Regions from separate parts of the Homo sapiens genome. Here region 2 is linked to region 1. The links come from fine-mapping of genetic effects on gene expression. A gene starts in region 1. The other region holds a variant in brackets. All regions are shown on one strand. Distances are from middle to middle. Region 1 holds the start of DOCK2 (dedicator of cytokinesis 2). Region 2 overlaps DOCK2 (dedicator of cytokinesis 2).

Region 1 (11,991 bases):
GAAAGCTCTTGATTCTCCCTATCGCCAACCCTCACTCCCACAGTCACTTCTAGAGTTTTGTCTGTTACTGAAGGCAGAATTATTTGAATGCCTACTTATCTACATGCCATCTTTGTTGTTGGGCCTCCTTCCTTTACTGTAACTAATTGATTTTGGGAGCGTATATCCTTCTTACCGAGAGTCTTTTATGGTCCTGATCGGAATGTGGACTCCTCTTTGGTGAGTAAAATTTAGGTAAGTACAAGCTTTTGCTCTCGACTGTCTGAGCTGCTGAGAATATACTCGGCTATTTGCCATGACTGTAACAGCTAACACAAGAAGAGACAATGAGAAAAATGTTGACTAGTACTGTGGAGGATGGAGTTTCCAAAGGCAGCCATGTGATGGACACAGGTCAGTGGGACACCAGAAGCCTCTAGGCATCTACCTACTGACGTGCCAATGCTAACTCCGGGTAGCCCTCTCTCCTATCTGGGCCCAGGAGCTCTCTGGCTGGGTGTTGGTGGACTTGTGCAGTAGGGGGCCCACCCCCATGAACTACTCAGAACAAGCTGACAGGCACTGTAGTGACGCAAGAATGGGAGGAGGGCACTCGAATGTCTTGAGATATAGCTATTTAGCAACTGTATGGAAATATTCCAATATTTAGTAATCATTACAGGCATACTAGTGAAATCCAGCCAAATCTTGGACCTGAATACATATGACTCTGAAAAAGATGGACATCAGAAACCTCCCCTTCTGCTGTGCCTTAGGGAAAGAGTTTTCTTCAATTTACCTAAACCATGAGTCCAGTTAGATTTCTTTGGGCTATACTTGAGGCTTTGCATAGTTATTTCCTGTGGAATGTCTTTATTTCACATTTCACAAAAGTTGTTAAACCTCTCACGTTATTACAAACCTGCTTTGCTTATATTTTTCCTAGATTATTCCAGAAGCTTGAGAAGACCAAAACTACTTGGGCAAAGGTTCTCAGAAGTAACATGGAGAAGAGATTGGAAGGAGGCAAGGTTGGAGGAAGGGATCTCTAATCCAAGTTTCAAGGAAGATCTTAAGTTTGTGGGATGGGGAAGAGGGCAGATTCAACAGCTGTTTTTGAGATTATCATTTGGAATGAAAGGAAGATTAGGATGAGTTAAATTTCTGACCCGAGTGAAGTGAAGGGTAATGATGCACTCATGGGCAATCATAGTGGATATTGGCTACAATAAGGGATTTCATTTCTCTGGCCTCAGTTTGCTGATTAGCAAATTGGGGGTAAAATTGGGGTAATAATGGTACCTGTCTTATGGGGCTGCTTTTAGGATGACACGAGATAATGCATGCCAACTGTTTAAATCAGGGATTGAAAGGCAGTAAGTATTCAATGAATGGGGCTCAGAAAGTGTTCAGTGAATTTGCTGCAAACCACAAAGCTAGGTAAGTGATGGAGATGGGGTTCTAGCACCTGATTAAAGCACAGTCTGGTCACTTCATCTGTTAACATTGGGTAGAAACAGTCAGAAGAGGGACAAGTCTAGGGTACAGTTATGATATGAGCTTGGTTTTGAAATATGGAGACATTGATGGGGCTGGGAGGGGATGTCTAGGAGGTAGTTGGACACACAGGACTGAACTTAACAGAAATCTTGGCTAGAGATGTCCTTTTACCCACAGTCATCCCTCACAATGTATGTGAAGTTATAGTCATCAAGAGTGTACTACCTAATAGTCAAGTAACTGACAGATGGTGTTTAATAAAATTGTGTGACCAAGATTATTGTAAATTCTTTAAGTGGTTTTAGTCAGATTTTTATGTTTGACTATTGATCTCTCTTGCCAAAAAATTTTTATGATGCCATAGGATTGTTAACTGTAATGAAAAGCCCATATTTCAGAAACATAAAAGCCATCTCCTAACCATATGAAGTTTAAAGATTTCTGCACTAAAAGCCACCCCATTAAGAAGTTAATTAACCCTCAGTCAAAATTTCTAAACTTCATCTCCTTCAACTGAAAGCAGTTTTTCAACTCTTTTAATATGCTGAATTTGTTTGTTTAACATTATTTAAGGAAGAGATTCCTATTATAGGTTGTGTCACAAGTTGAATGGGGAAAAAAAAACTTCAGTGCTCCTCAAGTTCAATCTTATTTGCTTTCTGGCACCACCACCTACTCTTGGCCTCCCATCAGATACTTTACCACACTGTTAATGTGAAGTTGCCTGTTTGTATGTCAGAAGCTTAAACCTAAATCGAAAAAAAAAAAAAAAGTGTATTTTAGATCAACTGGCTACAAGTTTATGAAGACAACACAACTGTGTATAGCAGAAGATAGCAAACTGTGGTTCACAGATCAAATCTGGCTTGTTGCATGTTTTTGTATGGCCCATGAACTAAGACTAGTTTTTACATTTTTAAACTGCTGAAAAATATCAAAATAAAGATAACATTCCATGCTATATGAAAACTGTAGGAAGTAAAAATTCCATTTTATGGGAACACAGCCATGCTCATTCATTTATGCATCATTTATAGTTGTTTTCATTCTACAATGGCAGAGTTGACTATTTGCAACAAGGACTGTGTATGGTGTTTTCAATGCTACACAGTGCTCTCCAGCAACCCACTAATCACGAGGATGAGATTACAACTCCACAGCATTTAAAGTGCATATCTCTCTCTATGGTAACATTTAAAAAAATTACCAGTGCTATAGCCACCATGTCAAAAAGAAAAGAAAGAATAGTGGGCTCCAAATGTCATGCTTCTAAGGCACAGTGGAGTGTGTATTGTTTGTTACCAAATTAAATAGCACTATGGTTTAAATGTGACCCCCCCCAAAGTTCATGAGTTGGGAATTTAATCCCCAATACAGCAACAGTGTTGGAAGGTGGGGCCTAATAAGATGTAATTAGTAGATCATGAGGGCTCTGCATAAATAGATTAATGTTGTTATCGTAGGAGTGGGTTAGTTATTGAGGGAGTGGTTAGTTATTGTGAGAGTGGGTTTGTTATAAAAGTGAGTTTGGGCTTCTCTTGCTCTCTGGCTCTTGCCCTGTCACCTTCCACCACGGGATGGCACAGCAAAAAAATGCCCTTGCTGGATGTTGGCCCCTTGATATTTAACTTCCCAGCCTCCAGAGGTGTGAGCCAAATAAATTTCTGTTCATCATAAATTACACAGTCTGTAGCATTCTGTTATAGCAGCACAAAACAAACAAAGCAGAGGAGAAAGCATTGTGTTTATTACATGTTGACACTCCAAACAATATAATAGATTAAGCACTCATCACATCTTTTCCAACTTACACAAAAGCAATGACAAGAAAAATTAGAAAATTTAAAACAGAATATCTCATCACAGCACAATTTCTTTAAAATAATAAAAAGTGAAAATGAGACTACAACCAGAATAAGTTTCCAAGTGGCTTATTTGTTATGCAAGCAAGGCAAAATATTTTATTGATGTTAAGTTCATTAAATCATGTTTGATTATAGCAGCAGATGAAATATATCCAGTGAAAATAAATTAGTTTAAGACTTTTAGCCTTTTGGTGACACTGGTTGCTTGGTTGAGAACATTGACAGAAGCATCAATAGTGAATTTTAAAATGACTTCTAGTGGTTTTCCTTAGTTCTTGTTGACAAATATTACCAATACAGCTCAGTTGTTGTTTATTTGAGAAGTCAATGCTGAGTTCGAAGTGAATGAAGAAATAGCTTCTATGAAGAGCCTGTGTAGAAGAACTATAGGCAAGATTACTTTAAAAGAAAATGAGAAAACACTAATTCAACACAACCTGAAGTGGAATCTGCTAAGATGTGTTGCTAGTGTTCATGGTAAAAAAAATATCTGTGGAGCAGAAGAAGGCTTTTGGAGCAAATTTAGAAGGTGGGTGAAAATATAAGATATTTAAAGCTTATGATTATTAATTGTAATATTCACCATCAGGTACTTTGTGGAAAATATCTAAATCTGTGATGTTATTGAATCAGTGGTATCAAAGGTTAATTTTATTAGCTTTTCTGGACTTTTAACCATTGCCCATTTGGTAAACATTTTTTTCAGAAATAGAAAGTAAATATCCTGTCAGATCAGCATTAACATATGAATATTTGAATCAATTTCGATAAGGCACATTAACTTTGAACTCCAATAAGGTGAAATGTGATATCATTCCCAAAATGTATTTTTTTTTGCCTTACTAAGCTAGTATTACAAAAAATACTCATTCACATGATATTTTGAATTTTATTAATAAAAAAAATTTAGAACCTTTTTTCTTTCTTTACATAAGTACCTGCATCCTACATATATACTTGATTTTGCTTTCTGGACTGCAAAGACTAAAATACTATCTGTGACTTTACAGAAAATGTTTGGCATCCTCTATTGTATAGTCCCAATTTATAACATTGTTGTGATAGCTAGTTTTGTGAGTCAACTTGGCAAGGCTATGGCCCAGTTATTCAATCAAATACCAATCTTCACAATCTTCACAGGGGTTGCTGTGAAGTACTTTGTAGATGTGATTAACATCTACCATACATTGAATTTAATTAAGGGAGATTATCCTCAATACATTTGGTTGGTGTGATCCAATTAGTTGACAAACCTTATGAATAGAACTGAGGTTCCTTGAAAAAGAAGAAATTCCTCCTGAGGACATCTGCCTGTGAGTTTCCAAACTGCTCTTCCTGACAGCCCCACAATCGCATTAGCCAATCCCCAATCTCTCTCTGTCTCTCATATACATATATATGTATGTGTATATATATATATATATATATGCATATATGTATGTGTATATATATATGCATATATGTATGTGTATATATATGCATATATGTATGTGTATATATATGCATATATGTATGTATGTATGTGTATATATATATGCATATATGTATGTATGTATATATATGTATGCATATATATAAAATCTCCTACTCTGGTCATCTGGTGGAACCCTAATACCACTGCTGACTGTATAAGACATTATTACCTAATTTGTGCTGCTAGAAAACAGAAAAGAAAATAACTGCAGATAAAACAAAATCAATAATTTTTTGTTGCTCCAGTTCAGCTGTGATATTGCCTAATCTATCTTAATGACTCTCCAGTGTAAGGCAGAAAGGGGTAGTGAGAGTCATGAATAAAGAAAGAAAACTCAGCAAAACTTAAATTCAGCCTTATCACTGTGGATCAGACTTTTTTTTTTTTTTTTTGGACAGAATCTGTTCTCAGAGCAAAAATGAGATTTTTCGAGGAAATGTCTCCATTAGCCTAACTCTAGGGCTCTTTTCCTGGGTCCCACTGTTGCTGGCTGTGACAGCACCCTTCACCTTGCAGTGATGTTGGTAAATAGTGTATTTACGTATTTTCAGAGTAGAGCTTCTAGAGCTTACATCAGATTTTCCAACGGGTTTGTAGCACCAAAACGATAAAAAGCTGTAAATGGGCCAGGCACGGTGGCTCACACCTGTAATCCCAGCACTTTGGGAGGCTGAGGCTGGCGGATCACCTGAGGTGGGGAGTTCGAGACCAGCATGACCAACATGGAGAAACCACGTTTCTACTGAAAATGCAAAGTTAGCCGGGCATGCTGGTGCATGCCTGTAATCCCAGCTACTGGGAAGGCTGAGACAGGAGAGTCGCTTGAACTCGGGAGGCGGAGGTCGCGGTGAGCCGCGATCGCGTCGTTGCACTCCAGCCTGGGCAGCAAGAGAGAAACTCGAAACTCCGTCTCACAAAAAAAAAAAAAAAAGGCTGTAAAGGATCCACCTCCAGGTAAACATTTACTCTTCCATGTCACCTGCTGTGTACATTGTCTCTCTAACCCTCACAATAATCATATGAAGTAGGTATTAGTATCCCATTTCACAGATGAGAAAACTGAAGCTTAGAAAAATGAAGTCATTTGTCCCCGTCTGGATTCGAACCGAGATCTGACACCAAAGCTCATGCTGAGGGGAGTTAAGGAGGTTTGTTCAGTCCCTAGGCACGGCAATCAGGAAACTCTCTGCACTTGCGGTGGTGGTCTGGCGAGCCCCAGGTGGGGACTGGCCTCTGCTCCCTCGCCTGGGGAGGAGACAAAGTGGGAGTGGTCCCCAAGTTTTGCGTGAAGTGGGGTGGGGTGGCGTGTCTTAGCCTACGGGGCACCAGCCTTCTAGTGTGCCCCTGCCCAACGGGAGGGAGGAGGGAGCGGGGAGCCCCGGCGAGGGAGGAGAGGGCGGGCCCTGAGAGGAGTTTGAAAAGAGGAAGGAAGTGGGGCCCTGCGGCGCCCAGCCACCCCCTGACGGCTTCCCCACGGGAGGACGCGAGGCCCCGGCCCAGCCATGGCCCCCTGGCGCAAAGCTGACAAGGAGCGGCACGGCGTGGGTAGGTGCGGGCCCCAGGGCGCGGCAGGGAGCGGGACAGGTGGCGGGAGAGCCGCGAGCAGGAGGATGCTGCGGGGCCGGCGGCGCGGGGTGGGCAGGGCGCGCTGCCTGCAGGTCAGAGGGCGCAGCCTGCGGCGGGGCCTCGGGGCGGGAAAGCCGAGGCTCGGGGAGAGGACGGCGGGACCCCACCCCGCAGGCTAAGCACAGCCCTCGCCCTCTCGCCTGCTGAGGGAACCTTAGACATTTCCGAGATAGGGTCAAGACCTGCGCTTGACAACTCAGTTCTTCGCGCCAAACTCGGCGTCCCCAGGAGTGCCCCAGCTCGCCGCGTGGGAGACTTGGCCTTGTAGAGGGAGCTCCACTCTCCCCTGGCTCAGCCTTGGCCTGCCCACCATGCATACTTCCACCCCCTCCAAAGCGACACCCATTTGCCTGCTTCCCCTGTCTGTTCCTCCTGGGTCAGATGACTCCTGATTTGGCAGGGCATCCAGAGGGCAGCTCAAGCTTGGGGGAATGGGGCTGGACGGTGGGGTTCTCTACTCAGCCCCCCAGAGCCTCTGGGGAAAAAGGCTCCCGCCAGGTGGTCTTAGGGTAACCAAGAAGCTAGCTTCGTCAGCCTCAGCCATCTAAACTCCCAGAAGCCTCTGCCTGGAGCTCAGGGGCGGAAGTGGTGGCTGGGGGAAGGGAGGCCTCAGGTGCTGCTACTCTAAGTGTCATCCGTGGTGCAATCTCCATGGACTCACTGTGGTTTTTAAACTTAAATATCAAATAAAAAGTCACTCTGGAGCTTCCTACACAGGCGGATACCAGACACCATCTCAGAGATAAATATTTCGCAGGTGAGGCATTGGAAGACCCAAACACCCAGAGGGATTTGATGCAGGGGGTCCCCAGGCCACTGTTTGGGAAACACTGCCCTGGAGAGATCAGCAGTTATCCACTCAATTACTGGGTACCGGGCACTGTGGGGTCATTTTGATATAAATGGTCCCCATCCAGAGAACAAATAATAATTCATATCTCAAGGGGCAGTTACAAAGTAAGGAAGGATACAGCTTCTGCCCTTGAGGAGTTATGTGTAAGGCTAGAGGCTTGGACTGGGAAGTCAGAACTGAGTTCAAATCAGGGTCTGTTTCCTCGTCTATAAAGTGGAAGTAATAATAATGCAGGTCTCATGAGACTCTTGTGAGGATTGAATGGGGTTATGCATGGAAAGCATTTAGTAGTGTGCTGGCTCAATAAGAGTTAGTGATTCAGGTCCAGGGTCTTACCTAGCAGCTTCAGAACCAAGAGACACCAGCACCAAGATGCACCCTAATGCCAGATTCAGGACAGTCATGCCTTATGAGACTGTAGTATTTCATGGTTTGCAAGACCAAAGGTCATGCAATCTCTGTCTGACTTCAGAACCCCCATGTGAGGCAGTGTATTATTCCCAACTTACAGGTGAAGTAACCAAGTTTACATCACTTGGAAGCAATGGAGCGGGCCTTAAATTCAATTGTCTTCAGACCCTAGGCCCTTTGCATGGCACCAGAAAAGCATCTAGAAGGGGAACATCATGGGTAAAGGCAGGGAACTGGCATCCCTGAAGTGTGTGGGTCAAACAATAAGTAGTCTGTTTTGGTTTTAGTATTGCTTTTAGTGTTAAAAAAATTTCAGAGGTAGATTATGGCTAGATTGTGAAGGGCTTTGAGTGCCAACCTTCAAAGTTTGGATTTCCTTCTCTGAGCACTGGAGGTTTTGAGCAGTGTCATCTGGAAGAAGTTAAATAGTTAATTAGGATAGGAGTGGGGAATTGGACTTAGAATAGAAGGAAAATGGGTAACAGTTTTACCTGTCTGCTGACTGCCTGGTTAATCTAGCAGGAGGTCACTTATAATCAACATTGCCTGTTAACCTTTACTAGGTTAATCCACTCTGCCTGAGGCTCTTGTCAGTGAAGAGAGCTTTCTCCTTGCAGGAGAGAGGAAAGGGCAGAAAAGAAGGAGGTAGAAAGAGAAACTAACAGTATCAGTTAGGGTTAAGTGTGACAAAGGGTGACAGAAAACCTCCAAAATTGTGGCCTAACCAAGCTGCAAGTTTATTTCTGTCTCTCATGGAAAGCTCAGAAATGGTCTGGGAAGAGGTGGTAAGGTGGCTCATTCTATATCTCACACTGTATCCTTGGCATGTGACTTCTGCCTCCTGAGCCACATAGGCTGCTTAAGCTTCGGTGATCAGGTCCACCTTCCAGCCAGCAAAAAGGATGCAGGGAAAAAGAAGGTCATGGCTTTTCCCTTTAAAGACATTTTCCTGAAGGCACACTTGACATTTCTTCTTACATTACATCCTATTGGCAAAAATGTAATCACATGACTGACTATAGCTGCAAGGGAAGCTAGGAAATGTAGTCTGTAATGTAGGCAGCCATGTACCCAGCTAAAAATTAGGAGTTCTCTTCATAAGTAAGGAGAGGAGGAAGAATATTGAGGATGATATATTAGTTTGCTCAGGCTGCTGTAGCAAAATACCACCAACTGGGTGGCTTAAACAACAGAAATGTATTTTCTCACAGTTCTCGAGGCTGGAAGTCTAAGATCAAAGCACCACCAGGGTTGGCTTGTCTCATGGCCTATCTCCATGGTTTGCAGATGGCTGTCTTGCTGCCTCTTCATTGCTTTCTGTGCAGGCACACCCTTGCTGTCTCTTCCTCCTGTCATGAGAACACCGGTCATATTGGATTAGCATCCCACCCTAAAGGACTCATTTTAACTTAATAATTCCTTTATCTCCGAATATGCACTTATCTCCAAATAGGAGTACCTTCTGAGACACTGATGACTGGGACTTCAGCATAAGAATTTTGGTGGGGACACAAATTCATGACAAATAATCTGTGGTCTCTGGCATGGTATTTTGGGACTATAAAGAGGGCTTCAAGGCAGGAGTCCTGAGATAAAGGGTGAGGGTAGAAAAGAGTTTTGTTTACCCTGAAGCTGAGCCTGCCAGGCAGATTTGTGTGGGACTCTAGTTATTCTTGTAGGGGAGGGAAAAGCTTCTTTCTGCTACTGCATCTTGGGTTTTCTGTAAATTAGACTAACAAAAGACTGATGAACAAGAGAAAACAAACAAGTTTATTAGCATGTACATCCTGCTTACATATGGAGTACTCAAAGGGTTGGTTTGAACTTGAGCTTATACAGCATCTTAGCAAAGGTACAATAAAGGTTTAGAGAAGTAGCAAGTCAAAGGAGGGTTTTAGGCCTCCAAGGGCAGCAAACTGTGGGAAGGGAAATATATGGGGAATCTAATGGAAGATAAAGGGTTATTTGTGCAGGTTCATCTTGGAGCCAACTTTCTGTCTTCTTCATTGCCATAAAACTTCCCTGGGAGAGGGGATTTATGACAGTCCTTATTTCTTAGGAGTTTCTTCAGATAAATATCCAGGAAAGCTTCTTGCTGTACCTGTTGATTCTTATTTGCATCCAGCTCAAAATAATCAATATGCCCTATGGAAGTGGCATATTTTGATCAGAAACCTGTTCTGTATGCAGCTTCTCTCTAGCTATGGTTTTACACCCATGTGTGGTGTTGAGGAATATTTGTTGGTTTCTTCTGAGGGCTGAGGGAAAATCTGTTCCAGGTGTCTCCCCCAGCTGCCAGTGGTTTGCTGGCAATCCTCGGCATTCCTTGGCTTACAAAAGCGTTGCCTTGATCGCTGCCTCCAACTTCACGTGGTATTCTCATTGTGTGCGTGTCTGTCTCCGCATTTCTCCTTTTAAAAAGGACATCCAGTCATATTAGATTAGGGCCCACCCTAGTGACTTCAGTTAAATGTGATTACCTCTGTAAAGACTGTCTCCAAATAAGATCACATTCTGAGGTACTGGGAGTTGAGACTCCAACGTCTCTTTTTTTGGAGGGGGAGGGCACAATTCAAACCATAACAGGCTCTGCAGAAGCAGAGAAGGGATCTTTTTCACAGCTTGGTTGGGGAATATGGAGGAATCCATAACCAGCTCGTGGTTCAGGGATGTGGGTGATGCTGTCGCAGCCCAGGACCCTGGACAGAGCTGATCCATGCACACTGACAGATTTGGCGTGGGCAATGTGTGCTGGTGTCATTTGCACATGGATTTTTGTTGAAGGGAACAAAATCTAGTCAAACCAGTTCAACGAAAATGTGTGTGGTGTGTATCTGTGGGAGAGCAGGGAGAAGTGGTGTATTTTAGGGTCAGAGGAATCACATGGAAATCCAGGAAACAGGAGGAGCCAGGCCTCGGAAAGGGCTTGAACTGAGGCAACCCTGGAAACCTCTGCCTCTCCTCTCATGGCTTCTCAGCTTCTCTGAGCATGCCAACTGTGGTCTCCTTTCTCTCCCCACCACCTCCCTCTGATTGCATTGTTCCTTCGTAACTGATACTCTAATACCACAGTGGTGGCCCCAGCATGCAACCCACCCATCTCTGCACAACCTTGCAGTTCAAGCATCCACTGAATCTTCTCTGTGTTTATTTGTTCAAAGTCCCAACAGAAGAGAGTGGTAGCTTGATTTCCCTTTGTAAGAAAGACAACCCAAGTCAGAGTTCATTGCCAGCCTAATAATGGGCCTCACTCTGGTGAGGGTGCTGCCCCTGGCAGGTCTAATTCTCTGTGACTATGAGGTGGGGTCACATGGCTTGCTACTCCTCTAGCAGGAGCCATGGGTGGGGACTGATTCTTTGAGTTGGAAGCATGAGTGGAAACTGCATCCCAAACATACCCAGGAGCAGAACTTCACTACAGAGGGACCAATTATACTGCTTTTATTGCCAAATGCAACAGTTGAAAGGATAGAGAGCATCACTCACTCATTAACTTGTCCATTTGTTCACTCATTCATTCTTCATTAACTTCTTAAATATTTGTTGGGTGTGTGTGCCAGGCATTATGCTAGTCACTGAGATTACTAGAATTAGGCCAATATGGCCCCTATCCTTCTGGAGCCTGTAGTCTAATAGGGAAGATGAAAAAGAATTTCATGAATAAATCAGTAACCATATAATTACAAATTGTGATATGTGCTGTTTTAATATGAGTGAGAATATTAGGAATGGTCTTGAATTAGATGATGTGAGAAGGCCTCTCAGGAGCAATGGGGAAAAGAATCCCAAAGCCAATGCTTGGAGGGATATTAATACATGCATCTTTGCTACAGTGGCTGACTGTACCTTTGGATTGGTCCCCAGAAATTAGTCTGGTGAAACAAAAATACATGGATTAGACATCTAATTCCTTCCTGCCACCAATTCTTAGGTGCCGGGGCTTCCTACTTTCAGATGCTTCAGCAATTTGGGTCTGTTTAGGAGTGCCTGCTGGGCTGGCTGTTTGAGTTCATGTAAGGAGATTGTCCTAATCCGTAGTTATATGGGCACCTCATTAGGCAGTGGACATCTTGCCCCTGACCATAATGTTTGCATTTGAATGAGCCTTGAAGACAGATTGTGTTTTCTAAGCTCTGCTTCCTCCTGAGATCAGCATCCTATTGCTGCTGTCTTTTGAGAGATGAAATGTAGTCACCATACTGCTCCGCTAATTTCTGGACCTTTGGATTTGTTTTTTTTTTCAATAGTCAATTACACATGGGTGCCACAGTCTGTGCTCTGCA
Region 2 (11,991 bases), 450 kb after region 1:
TGCTGGAGGCTGAAGTTGGAGGGGATCCAGCAAAGGAAGCTGCTTCCAAAGAGAAGATAATGATGGCCAGCATTGCTGGATCCCATCCAGGGGAACCCTCCTGGAAACTTGGTCCAGCAAAAGTAACCCCCAGACAAACTCCAGTTACAACTGGATTGTGCAGATACCAACTACTCAAGGGACTGTGTAATAATAATGAAAGCTACACTGATGCAGCATCTACTATGTGCCAGGCCTGATTCAAGCACTTGACATCTACTAGGTCATTTAATCCTCACCACAAGCCTGAGAGGCAGGAAAGATTTTTAATCCTTTGTATTTCTTCTGAGGTTCAGAAGGTCAGGCAACTTGCCAGAGGCTATGTGGCAAATGAATGTGGGGCAGAATTTGCATCTGGCTCTGTTAGTTTAAGGCCAGTGATTTTGACCGCTGAGCTCCTTGGCCTAAAGAGGCCATGAGCCTGGTGCTTACGGGGTGCTTCTTCATCCTTTTCCTTATTAACTGGTGTTATAAAATGTCAAGGCCATGCAATTCCTTTAAAACCATCTGGTCCAGCCTTCCCATTTTACAGATGGTAAAACTGAGACCCAGAGAAGAAAAGTGAATTACTGGAAGAACCTACAGATGCACTCAGGTCTCTTGATTCAAAGATTTTTTTCCATGAGGCAGTTTGTCACTTTCAATACTCCCTACATGAAGTCCCTGTAATGCAATTCTGGTGCTAACTCCCTGGAGTTAGGTCACATTTCACAGGTTAGAAGCACAGTCTTAGACACTTCCCACTTCAAACACCAACCATAAGCTTCAGGGACCCAGGCCACCCACACTTCTGCCTAACTGGTTACAAACTGGGAGATTCCCACTACCCCATCAGGTTTCATAATTCACTAGAATAATTCACAGAACTCAGGAAAGCATGATACTTATGATTTCAGTTTATGATACAAATCAAGACCAGCCAGGTAAAGAGACACAGAGTGAGGTCCAGGAGGGTCCCAAACATGAAGTTTCCACGTATTCCAGATGCATCCCCCTTCTGGCACATTGATGTATGATTACCAGCCAGAGAAGTTCACTAGAGCCTAATGTCCAGAGTTTTTATTGGGGTTTTATTATGTAGTCATGATAGATTGAACCATTGGCCATGTGATGGAAATCAGTCTCTGGGCCTGTCCACTCCCTGGAGGTTGAGCTGATACCACATGGCTTAAAGCCCCAGCCCAGCCCTATAATCATAGAGCTGGTCTTTCTGGCCATCAGGAGCCATCTTATTAGCATAAAATCAAGTATGGTCAAGGGGGCCACCATGAATAATAACAAGGATACTACTATCACATAGGAAATTCCAAAGTTTTAGATATTACCTTCCAGGAACCAGGAGTAAAGGTCATCCACATTCTTCATTCTACAAGAACGCCCTAGCCTCAGCCAGCCAGGAACTTTTGTGCTGATGCTCCACTCAGCCCCACAACTCTGCCCTGCCTAGGTGGAGGAAGAAGGTGACAGGAAGGCTGGGGCCACCTTCCCCAGGCTACAGCTGCTAACCACCCTGTTCTCCCACCACAGCCTGACTTTGACGACAGGAGAGTGGGCCGTCCCAGGTCTATGCTGCGCTCATACAGACAGATGTCCATCATCTCTCTGGCTTCCATGAATTCTGACTGCAGCACCCCCAGCAAGCCTACCTCAGAGAGGTCAGTCCCTGCACCCCAAGGAGCCCCCCACACCCCTGCCTCCCTGGCTCTATCCCCCCTCCTTCTCTCTCTTCTCCGGCAACATCCCTTCTACCTTTCCCTTCCTCCTTTCAGTTTAAAAGCCTTTTCCCATCTGCAGTCTCACAACTACCCCAGGAGGCTCATGGTTAGTACCATTTTTAGGGGATTATCAGAGGCTCAGAGAGGCAAGGCAGCTTTCCTGAGGACCCAGCAGGAGTCACCTGCAGCCCCCAGACTTCTAGTCCAGTGATCTCTGTCAGCCAGGCAGAGCTCCTCACCAAGCCTGCATCCTTCTGGAATATTGTCACCTCTCATAGGGATCTGTTCCCTTTCAAGGAAGCTCCTCCCAACCACGATGGGATGTCTCCATTGCAGAGCTCTTCCTCCTGCACCACCTACCCACCCCTCTGTCGGGGGTCTTCCCTCCCTTGCCCCTTCCACCTTCCTGGAGCCCTCTGGCCATCATTGTTGGACCCTCCAGAAACTTCCCTGCGGGCCTCAGAGGTTACTCTTGCCCAGAGGGAAAAGGATGGAAACGTCTTCTGTTTCACAGTTCTAGGGGGCATCATTCACAATTCTAGGGGGCACCATTCACCCTGCCCAACTCATCTGTTCTAATCATAGATACATGAGCAACCCAGCACTTACCATATGCCAAGAATATGCCAAGGGTTCCTCAGACATCATCTCATGGCCACTCTGCAAGGTCTCTGCGAAGACCTCCATTTACTGAAAAGGAAATGATGGCTTGAAGAGGTTGAGTGATTTACCCAAAGTTATTCATTCAGCTAAGAACTGGCCGTGCCTGGATTTGAATCCACATTCATGCTTTCAACCAGTCTTCTCTCCTCACCACCAGTTTCTTTTCTATGGCTCACTTCTTTCAATTTCATTTTACCACGAATAAAATAAAGTGAACTTTACTCATCACATTTAACTGTTTGTGCATTGAGCAAGTTGCTCCCCAAATCCTCTGCCAGATTTGCTGATCTACTCCAGACCCTGTAGTGACAGCTCAGGCAGCCCAAAGGTCCCCTTCAGCTTCCTGGGTCCTTGCAAGGCAGTTCTACTGAAGCTCTAACTGCAGTTTCTATTGCTGCCCCTCTGGCCTTTCAGCTTTGACCTGGAATTAGCATCACCCAAGACGCCGAGAGTGGAGCAGGAGGAACCGATCTCCCCGGGGAGCACCCTGCCTGAGGTCAAGCTGCGGAGGTCCAAGAAGAGGACAAAGAGAAGCAGCGTAGTTTTTGCGGATGAGAAAGCAGCTGCAGAGTCGGACCTGAAGCGGGTGAGTGGCTGAGGCAGATTGCCTCTCCAGCGCTGTTAGCACATTTCCACTACATGCTGGGCACAAAACCCAGGGCTTCCAGATATGGGCTTCCTGAAGCCTGCCACTGCGGTGCTATGGGTATTGCAGAGGCGGCACCTGAGGAGCTGAGAGGTGAAGTGCTTACTCGTGCCCAGGCAGCTGGGGTGGCTGGGACATGACAGAGCTGGGAGTTGAGCCCTGACCTTTGCACTTCAGAGCCTGTGTGTATCCTTTCCACCATCACACAGGGCTTTTCCAGGCTGGGGAGAATCCACCTGTTCTCCCACCAAAAGGGAGAGCAGCCCACTTGGTACTGAGCTAGGTGTTTCTATAGCCCCCAGCCCCAGGCCTATTCTAACCACTGATGTCTCAGACCCCTGCAAGCCCCTCCTGTGTGCCAGGAGTCCAGGTGGGGATACAGGGATGAAATCTCACTGTCCTGGCTTTGAGAGTGTTGGTCTTGTAAACTAACGATTATTTAAAAATGAGACTTGGTTTCAGACAGCCCTGGATTCAATCTTAGTTTCCCCCTGGAAAAGAGGTTTGTTGGAAGTGTTCTGGGAACCTGGGAGTGGGAGATGGATTAACTGCCCTGGCAAGGGAGGGGTGCCAAATGAAAGAGCAAGGGGCCAACCAAGATGCCTTAGTGAAGAAAGGGCCCTCCAGAAACTTCCCAGTGGGCCTCGCAGGCTACTCTTGCGTGGATGGATAAGAATGGAAATGTCTTCTGTGTTTGTCGATTCTAGGGGACACCATTTACATGATAGTCTAAATGAATGTCCGCCACCCCCGCCTGTAGTTGTGTAGTGTGCAACCTGTGCAACCATATGTGGCAGGCTGGCATGGAATGGTATAATACAGAATAAATGAACTTGGAGCCAGCTTCATAGAAACCATGCCACGCCCTCCTCACTGATCTTTCAGAGACCCAGATCTGCCTCATGCTAAGCCTCTGTCTTTGTGTGTGTGTGTGTGTGTCTGGTGTATTCCTCCAGCTTTCCAGGAAGCATGAGTTCATGAGTGACACCAACCTCTCGGAGCATGCGGCCATCCCCCTCAAGGCGTCTGTCCTCTCTCAAATGAGCTTTGCCAGCCAGTCCATGCCTACCATCCCAGGTATGCCCCCTGCTGCCACCAGCATGAGGGAGTAGAGATAGTGCAGGCCACCAGCCTTGTGGGTGGAGGATGGATGGGAACTGTGTCTACACAACAAAGTGGGCCAGGCATCCTGGAGTGAGAGGCTCTGCTCATAGCCACCCACCCTCTAATCTCTCCCCACACCCACCACTTCCTGGGGGTGACACCATCCCAGCAAGCTCCAGCAGGGACAGGGGAGAGGCCTGCTGTCCCTTGGGCCCTCAGGATTCACTGAGCATCCATTTGTCACACTAGGTGGCCCCTTGTTCTCAGTTAGCCAGGCCTCCCCAGGGGCCAGAAGTTTGCCCTTGGTATGTCCCTAAGACCTGTGGCTTCTTTGTGGACCTGGAAGACTCTTTCTGGCTTTACAGAAATGGCCACCACATCTTATAGCTGCAAAGTGTTTGGTGCATAGATGCTACCTATCTGCCACCGTCGTCACTCACTCACTGTCCAGTGAGGAGGTTAGAGCACAGCCGATGGTCCTAACTCACAGAAGGGAATCTGAGGCCCTAACAGGGGACATGGCATGCCTGAGAGCACTCCATCTGGTAGGCAGAAGTCCTTGACGTCTGCTGCTATGTGCCTGGCTCTGTGTGCTAAGGGCCAGGTCAGAAGGGAACAAGACAGGACCAGTGCTGCCCTGTGGAACTCAGCAGGCCGATCATGGTGAAGACGCTTGCTGTTTCCTGAACATTGAGGGTGCCAGGCCCTGCGCCAACTG[C/G]TACTCCTTCTTTATTTCATTTACTCCACTGCGCATACCCAGGAAGTAGTTCATGTTATCCACCCCATTGTATGGATGAGGAAACTGGGGCACTGAGAACATCACTCTCTTGCCTATCACCAGCCAGCAAATGGCAGAGACTGAGTTCAGACCCAGGCCCTCTTCCCTGGAACAGGCACCTACCCACTGCCCCGCCACCACCCCCAGGATAGCCTGAACACAGCTGCAACATTTGGCCCAAGCCATTTCACTGGTATCTGCTCAGCAGGTCTCACCACACCCTGGCGGTCTGGGCTCTTTCTCCCATTTGGCCAATGTCAAAACCAGCAGTCAGAGAGTAACTAATTTTTCATGTCTCTGTGACGCCAAGCTGGGGCTGTAACCACTAGGTCATCTGGCCCCTCCACCAGGTGACACGTGGGTTTGAGACTCTCTTCCCGCTGTCTCCTGCAATGGGGAGAGAAATCCAGGGTGTTGGTGTTGGGAGCTGGAGGAAGAGTAAGCTCACACTGTCCCCTGCCTTGGAGCAGAAGGTTCTGTTTCCTGGGGATGTCAGGGCTTTGGGGCAAGGTTTTGACCAGGAGCCAGGAGGCTGAACCCTTGTCTGTAGGGTGGGCAATCTTCACTGCAAGAGGACAGCTTCAATGTCCCCTGGCACGGCAGGAAATAGGCATCCTGCCTCCTGCTTGGCACATACAATGTGTGATCCCTGGATGCTGGCTCTGTCCCCCAGCCCTCCCCCTGTCTACCTCCCCCAAGGCACTGCCCCTCCTCTACCCACCCATTCACACCCCAGCTCTGCTCTCCTTCCAGCCCTGGCGCTCTCAGTGGCAGGCATCCCTGGGTTGGATGAGGCCAACACATCTCCCCGCCTCAGCCAGACCTTCCTCCAACTCTCAGATGGTGACAAGAAGACACTCACACGGAAGAAGGTCAATCAGTTCTTCAAGACAATGGTGAGGACATTGAGGGTGGAAGGAAAGGAAGGCATTGGGAGGAGAAAGGGAAGAGAGCAATGCAGAGAGAAGAAAATGGGGGGTTGTGTGTGCATATGTGGTCATTCCTAGGGAGGCATAGTCAGGAGGCCCTGAGTTCTGGGACACTGTGCAGCAATGCCCAGAGGGCAGTTCTCCTCTGGGGCCTCAGGCAGCTCCTCTGACCAGGATTGACCCCAGCTAGGGATGTGCAGGACCCAGGGACCTCAGAAGCAGTAGGTGGCCTACCCTCGCCTAAACTGCCCCTTAGTGCTCCAGCCCTTTTTTATTCAACCTATATCACAAAATCCTACAAATTGAACATTAGTTTCCAAGCGCTGATTCTGCAAGTCCCATCTCCTATTGTTACTTGTTGGCCTTTGCTCAAGATCAAGAAGGTACCATAACACATCTGATCCTCAAGGTAATATGAAATCAGGACTCTGCTACTACAAATATCTCAAGTTTACCATGAGCACACGATGAGTCAGGCACCATGCTAAGCACTTCCCAAGCATGGTGCCATTTGAGCTCCCACTCTTAGGATTTTATATGGGAGGCTCACAGGGTTTGGTAAGTGAGGTGCCCAAGTCCACATGGCTAGTGAGCCTGGGCTCACTCTACTGTCTACCACTGCCTTTCTGGCCAAAGCCAAGGGCATAGCAGCTCACATTCACTGGGCTTTGGGCAGGGGTCAGTGTTGAGGCCCTTGTGATTAGGACTGGGAAGCTCCATTTTGGTGCTTAATCTGATAATCGCATCTTGGTTTTGTGCTTGTTTATTCTCTCAAAAGCTGGCCAGCAAATCGGCTGAAGAAGGCAAACAGATCCCAGACTCGCTGTCCACGGACCTGTGAGCTGCTGCTGACTAGGGCTGCATGGGAGAGCCAGGGAGGGGAGTTTCTGGAAGAGGAAAGCCATGCGTGGAACATCGAAGCCTCAGAGAGTGGGAGACTGTCCCCATCAGTTGTCCTTACTTAGAGGAGACAGAGAGGCCAATCAGGTCCCAGAGCTTGAATGCTAACAAGCCCAGCATCCCCTGGGGCTGTGATCATGGTGGATGAGGAAGCCTCAACGTAGATTCCTGAACTCAAGGTACCAGCAAGAATGCCTTCTCCCAGTGTGCTCTCCCCAACATCCTAGGCACAGCTTTCATAACCCAGTTTCTTAGGTGTAAGAAACTGTTTTTATCTCATTTATTAAGTCTCAGAACTTAACAGAAAAGGAAGCCTTTTAAATATTCTTTTTAATTTTATTTTAGATTAACAGTTTTGTACTTTACATTTTTTTATACAACCAACCAGTTTCTTTTCTAGCCAATCATCTCTGAAGAGTTGCTGTTTCTTACTGACAATAAAAAATGTTCTCTTGGTTCGAATAAGCCTTGTTGCCTGATTCTGTTGGCTGACTCTCCTGGGCCCAGGACTGGGCAGGAAGCTCCCTGGAAGGAAGGCAGGCCCAGGGGCTGCAGTGATGTGAAGGAGCCTGGTGATGCCCTTGCCCAATGCCAAATTTCCCCACCTCATCTATGAGAAGATTCTTCAAGAATCTCCATGACTCTTGTTCCTTAGGTGCCAAACCCTGGGCTACCAGCATGTTAAAAAAGTTGCCCTGGTCTTCCTCACGAATCTGAATAGTGGAGTGTCATACCTCCTTTCTTCACCTTTAGAAAGAGATGGCAAGACCACCCAAGCCAGGTCACTCTAGTAAAGACCAAACATAATGCCAAAGAGTTAGGAAAAGAGGGGTCTGAGGTCCAGTGGACTTATGGTCCAGCTCTTGGATCTTGTCACCGGCTCCCAAGTGGTGGCTTTTCTTGGAGGAATTCTCAGGTTTTTCAGATGAGGCCCAAAGGAGGTGAGTAGCTTTGTCAGGCAGCAGCAAGAGAGGATGGGAGCAAAGTCCCACGTCTGGATCCTACAGAGAGCAGGGAGCTGTGCAGGGGAGGGGTCCAGAAGGAGGCGGAGGACTGCATTTGAGAAGGAAATTAATACTGGGTAAGTGCATGACAACACAGGTTTCAGAACTAGAGCCATCTGGAAACCTTGGGGTGGATGCTCATTTACAGGCTGGGTCCCTGGGGTATAGTAAGAGATGAGAAAGAATGATGATGGTAGCTCAAATTTATTGAGCCCTGACTGTCTCTGGGACAGTGTTATAGACATGATAAGAATGAACTTCCTAAGTCTAGACAGCAGCCCTAGGAGGTAGATACGATTGCTACCCAGATGAAGAAATGGAGGCACAGAAGCATGAAGTGACCCAAGATCACACGCTTAGTAATGGAATGGCTGGGATTCAAACCCAGACAGCTGGGTGGGAAGCCTGACTCTTAGGCACCACCCTACATTGTCTCTGGGACACCTTAGTGCACAGAATATCCTGAGTCTTGGTAGCCTTTATCCACCCCAGCCTGTCCCTGGTGGCCTCTATGTCCCTGCTGCAAGCCCCATTTGAAGACGTGTTGCCTAGTTCAGCTTCTAGTTTCCTCAACAGTCTAAAAAGTCCTGTTGCGATGATTGTTGGGGTTTGGGCTACAACAAACACCTTTGGGTTCCCTAAGGTGAGTAAGCAGCACCTGGAGGATTGGACTCTATTACGAGCTTGGCTTCTCATGCCTGCTTTTTCTCTTATTATGAACTGATAAAATCCTACTGTTTAGCTTTGACATGTAAGCCCTTCCAAATACCAGTGGGCAGTGGGGGCCAGGGAGGAGGGGGCAAATCTCAACAAGGAAAAGAAAATGGTTCTCCCTTTTCCCACAACTACAGAAAAGCAGATATGATCCTGTGCCTTGAAACTGCAGATGTTACCCTCACTCGGGAGTACTGAAAAACACCCATACTCAGAGGTTGTTGCTATGTCGTCCCGAGAAAGTAAGCTTTAACCCCTAAAAATTCTGTAACTGATTGATCTTCTCGCTTAACACCGTGTGACCCTGGTAATAATATTTCTGAGTTCTATTTTCTGAAGATTATCAGTATCTATGAGTTTTCTTATTAAGTCTGAAGGGGACCATTGGCACTTCCCTGTTTTCCCATATAAATGGAGCAAGACGTTAAACCCATAAACAGGGTTTGAAAGTCAAATGTCATTTCAGTTAAGAAATGAGGTTGACAGCCCACTTAATCCTTTGCCAGAAAAATTTTAGATGCTGCCATCACATGGCAGGAAAAACAATGCCAGTAGTAATAACAATAACAAGCAATAATAATAATACAGCTGCCACTTACCAGGCACTTACTCTATATGTCATTTCCTTAAATCCTCACACCAATCCTATGAGCTAGACACTACGGTCCCAATCACATTGATGTGAAACTCAATTCCAAGGTTGAGGAGTTTGTGATGTGGCCTTGTCACCTGACTAGTAAGGGACACAGCCATCTCTATCCACACCAAGCCTCGTGATCTTAATCCACACATTCACTTTATACCTGGGACCTCAGCTCAATGTCAGACTCTATTTCACCGTCCATGATTGTTTGCAAGTCTTCTCCTACAATGCCAATGGTGGCACCTGGGAAAAATGAAGGTGGGGTTAGGCATTTGGCATAGCCCTCCTGGTACCACCGATGTTCCCTTATTGTATACAAGTTCTGTCCAAAACAAGCTAGTCATCTCAAGGAAGGGTGTATGTCTCAGAATTTCCAGAAGGAGGTAGCATTGGATGGGATTGGAGGAAGGATCTCTTTATATGTCTTCCCTTCTTGATGCTGTTTTCTGGGACCCTTAGGGACCACTTCATCCAGTGCTCTCATTTTACACAGTTAAGTGATCTCTCCAATGGCTGTGATCAGCAGGACCCAATCTGGAATCCAGGTCTTCTTCCAGGTAATCTCCCATCAGTGGAAATCTCTCACCTTCTCTTTAAGCACCCAGTGACGCTTGTTCTCTGTCTCCAAGACAGGGTTGATATCTGCGATTCATACTTTGGTTTGATCTAGAGCACTACATTCCCTTCCTTTCCTTAAGGGAGGGGTATTTTTAGCCTTTATTCCTAAGCATGGAGTAGAAGTCTTCCTTCTTTCTTCTAGGCTTTCAGGCTTATGTCAGCAAGTAGAAGAGAAATTGAGGGAAACAAATGGCCTTCCCAGCATCCAAAATCAGGCTGGGCTCTGCTTTCCAGACATGCTAACCTGTAACACATCTGTATGCCTCTCCTGGCTGAAACCTGGGTGTTTCTGCCTCCCTGCCATAGCTTCAGTTCCCTAGGAAACAGATCCTCAGGCAATGATTGAATGCCATGCTCTTTTGGGGCTGTGCAATCTTAGGGTGAAGGAAAGAGGGAAAAGGGATTGGAAGCAATGAAAGTTGAGGTATTAACTCTACTTGTCTCTGGTTCACACTAAGCCACAAAGAGACTCAACTTGTCAGGCAGCATTGAGCAGGGTATCTTTGGGCAGGGTATAATAGAGAAATCAAACCCCAGAAGAGTCTGTAAAAAGGAGAAAGTCCGGGCGTGGTGGCTCACGCCTGTAATCCCAGCACTTACGGAGGCCAAGGTGGGTGGGTCATGAGGTCAAGAGATCAAGACCATCCTGGCCAACATGGTGAAACCCTGTCTCTACTAAAAATACAAAAATTAGCCAGGTGTGGTGGCATGCACCTGTAGTCCCAGCTACTCAGGAGGCTGAGGCAGGAGAATCACTTGAACCTGGGAGGTGGAGTTTGCAGTGAGCCGAGATTGTGCCACTGCACTCCAGCCTGGCAACAGAGTGAGACTCTGTCAAAAAAAAAAAAGGAAGAAAAGGGAATGTATTTGCCCAGCTTGCCCCTACCTCAGTCTCCTGTTTCTAGTAGTAAGTTCCCCCTGTTGGGTATGGTAAAACCCTTCATGGTTTTACCTGTGGATTGCATCATTTAGCCCTTTCAGTAGCTGCTTGGGAAGCTAGATCCCACGCCCCACAAAGTGGCATTCCATCCAAGGGCAGAATTTGTGTAAGAAACCAGCAACTCAGGGAATAAGCCAGTAGTCTGGGCTCTGTTGCAGCAAGAAAAGGGAAGAGCAAGGCCTTATGGACAAGCAACTGGTGGACTCCAGGTGGGAGGACCATGTGAACCTAAGTTGGCTGCAGTGGCTACTGAGGTAGAGCAGACAGCTGGCGTCCCAGAAAACCATGGCCTCTGAAGGAGCCGAAAAGGCATATGAGATTGTCTGGGACATTCAGACCCTCACATGCCCCTTCTGTTATCTCCTGCTCCTATTATAGCTTGTGAATCTTCTCTCTCTCTCTCTCTCTCTGTGTGTGTGAGTGTGTGTATAAGATGTACTTTCTCCTTTCCTACAAAAAGATGAACAAATCCATATGCTTTCTCCTTTCCTAGGAGGGGATGTCCAAGTCCATGTGCTTTTTCCTTTCCACATGTCCAAGTCCACATGTTTTCTTTCCCATAAGAGATGTCCAAATTCATGTGCTTTCTCCTTTCCCAAGAAGGGATGTCCCAGTCCAAGCAGTCACAGAGTCCACTTCAAGGCGGCATTTAGTTATGATCTCCCACACAACCTACAGCAAGAAGATTTGTGAAAGAAGCCACGATAGCTACTGCAGCTGGACCAAGACTATAACAGATACTCATTATCTCCTTCCTCCACCACCCAGTTAAGTGTCTCTGACCCACAGGTCACACTTCATCTGGACTGGGTTGCCTGCCTGCTGGGCTGCTCAGACCTCTTATCCCCAAAGGGTCTGAGTCTAATTGCTCCACCCTTCTTGGTTTGTGGTTGTTGTAATTACCTAGTGATCATTACCAGTGGGCATGAGTGTACTAAGAAAGGGCCCAGTGATCCCCTTGGTTCCAGGCACGCTCCTCTCTGCGCCTATTGAATCAACATCCGAGGTCCTCATGTAATCAGGGTCAGTTGCTGATCCATGAGCATGATAAGCCAAAGTGGCCAAGTGGTCGTCACACCTCCAGTTCAATGGGGGCATCACTCTGGCCCTACCTTGTGACCATATTATGGGTTGATTTGTGTCCTTCTAAAATTCACATGTTGAAATAATAACCTCCAATACCTCAAGATGTGACCTTATTTGAAGATAGGGTCTTTAAACAGGTAGTAAAGTTAAAACAAGGTCATTAGGGTGGGTATTAATTCAACATGACTGGTGTCCTTATAAAAAGAGGAAAT

Evidence for each region. PIP is the estimated chance that this variant, and not a neighbour inherited with it, causes the effect.
Region 2: its variant is fine-mapped to the expression of DOCK2 in whole blood (TOPMed, PIP above 0.99).

What each region holds. Positions count from the first base shown.
Region 1 is chr5:169,631,007-169,642,997 of GRCh38, forward strand. DOCK2 (dedicator of cytokinesis 2) reads left to right here and starts at 6,269. Exons shown (of 52, transcript NM_004946.3): 1 at 6,269-6,363. The coding sequence starts at 6,321. RefSeq lists silencers at 6,137-6,616, 6,647-6,706 and an enhancer at 6,967-7,066.
Region 2 is chr5:170,076,144-170,088,134 of GRCh38, forward strand. It overlaps DOCK2 (dedicator of cytokinesis 2), which reads left to right. Exons shown (of 52, transcript NM_004946.3): 48 at 1,567-1,694; 49 at 2,832-3,003; 50 at 4,020-4,140; 51 at 5,699-5,841; 52 at 6,653-7,239. The coding sequence ends at 6,715. Among named protein-coding and RNA genes, the nearest start is that of FOXI1, 24 kb to the right of the region's middle. The variant C/G (reference allele first, on the strand shown) is at 4,886.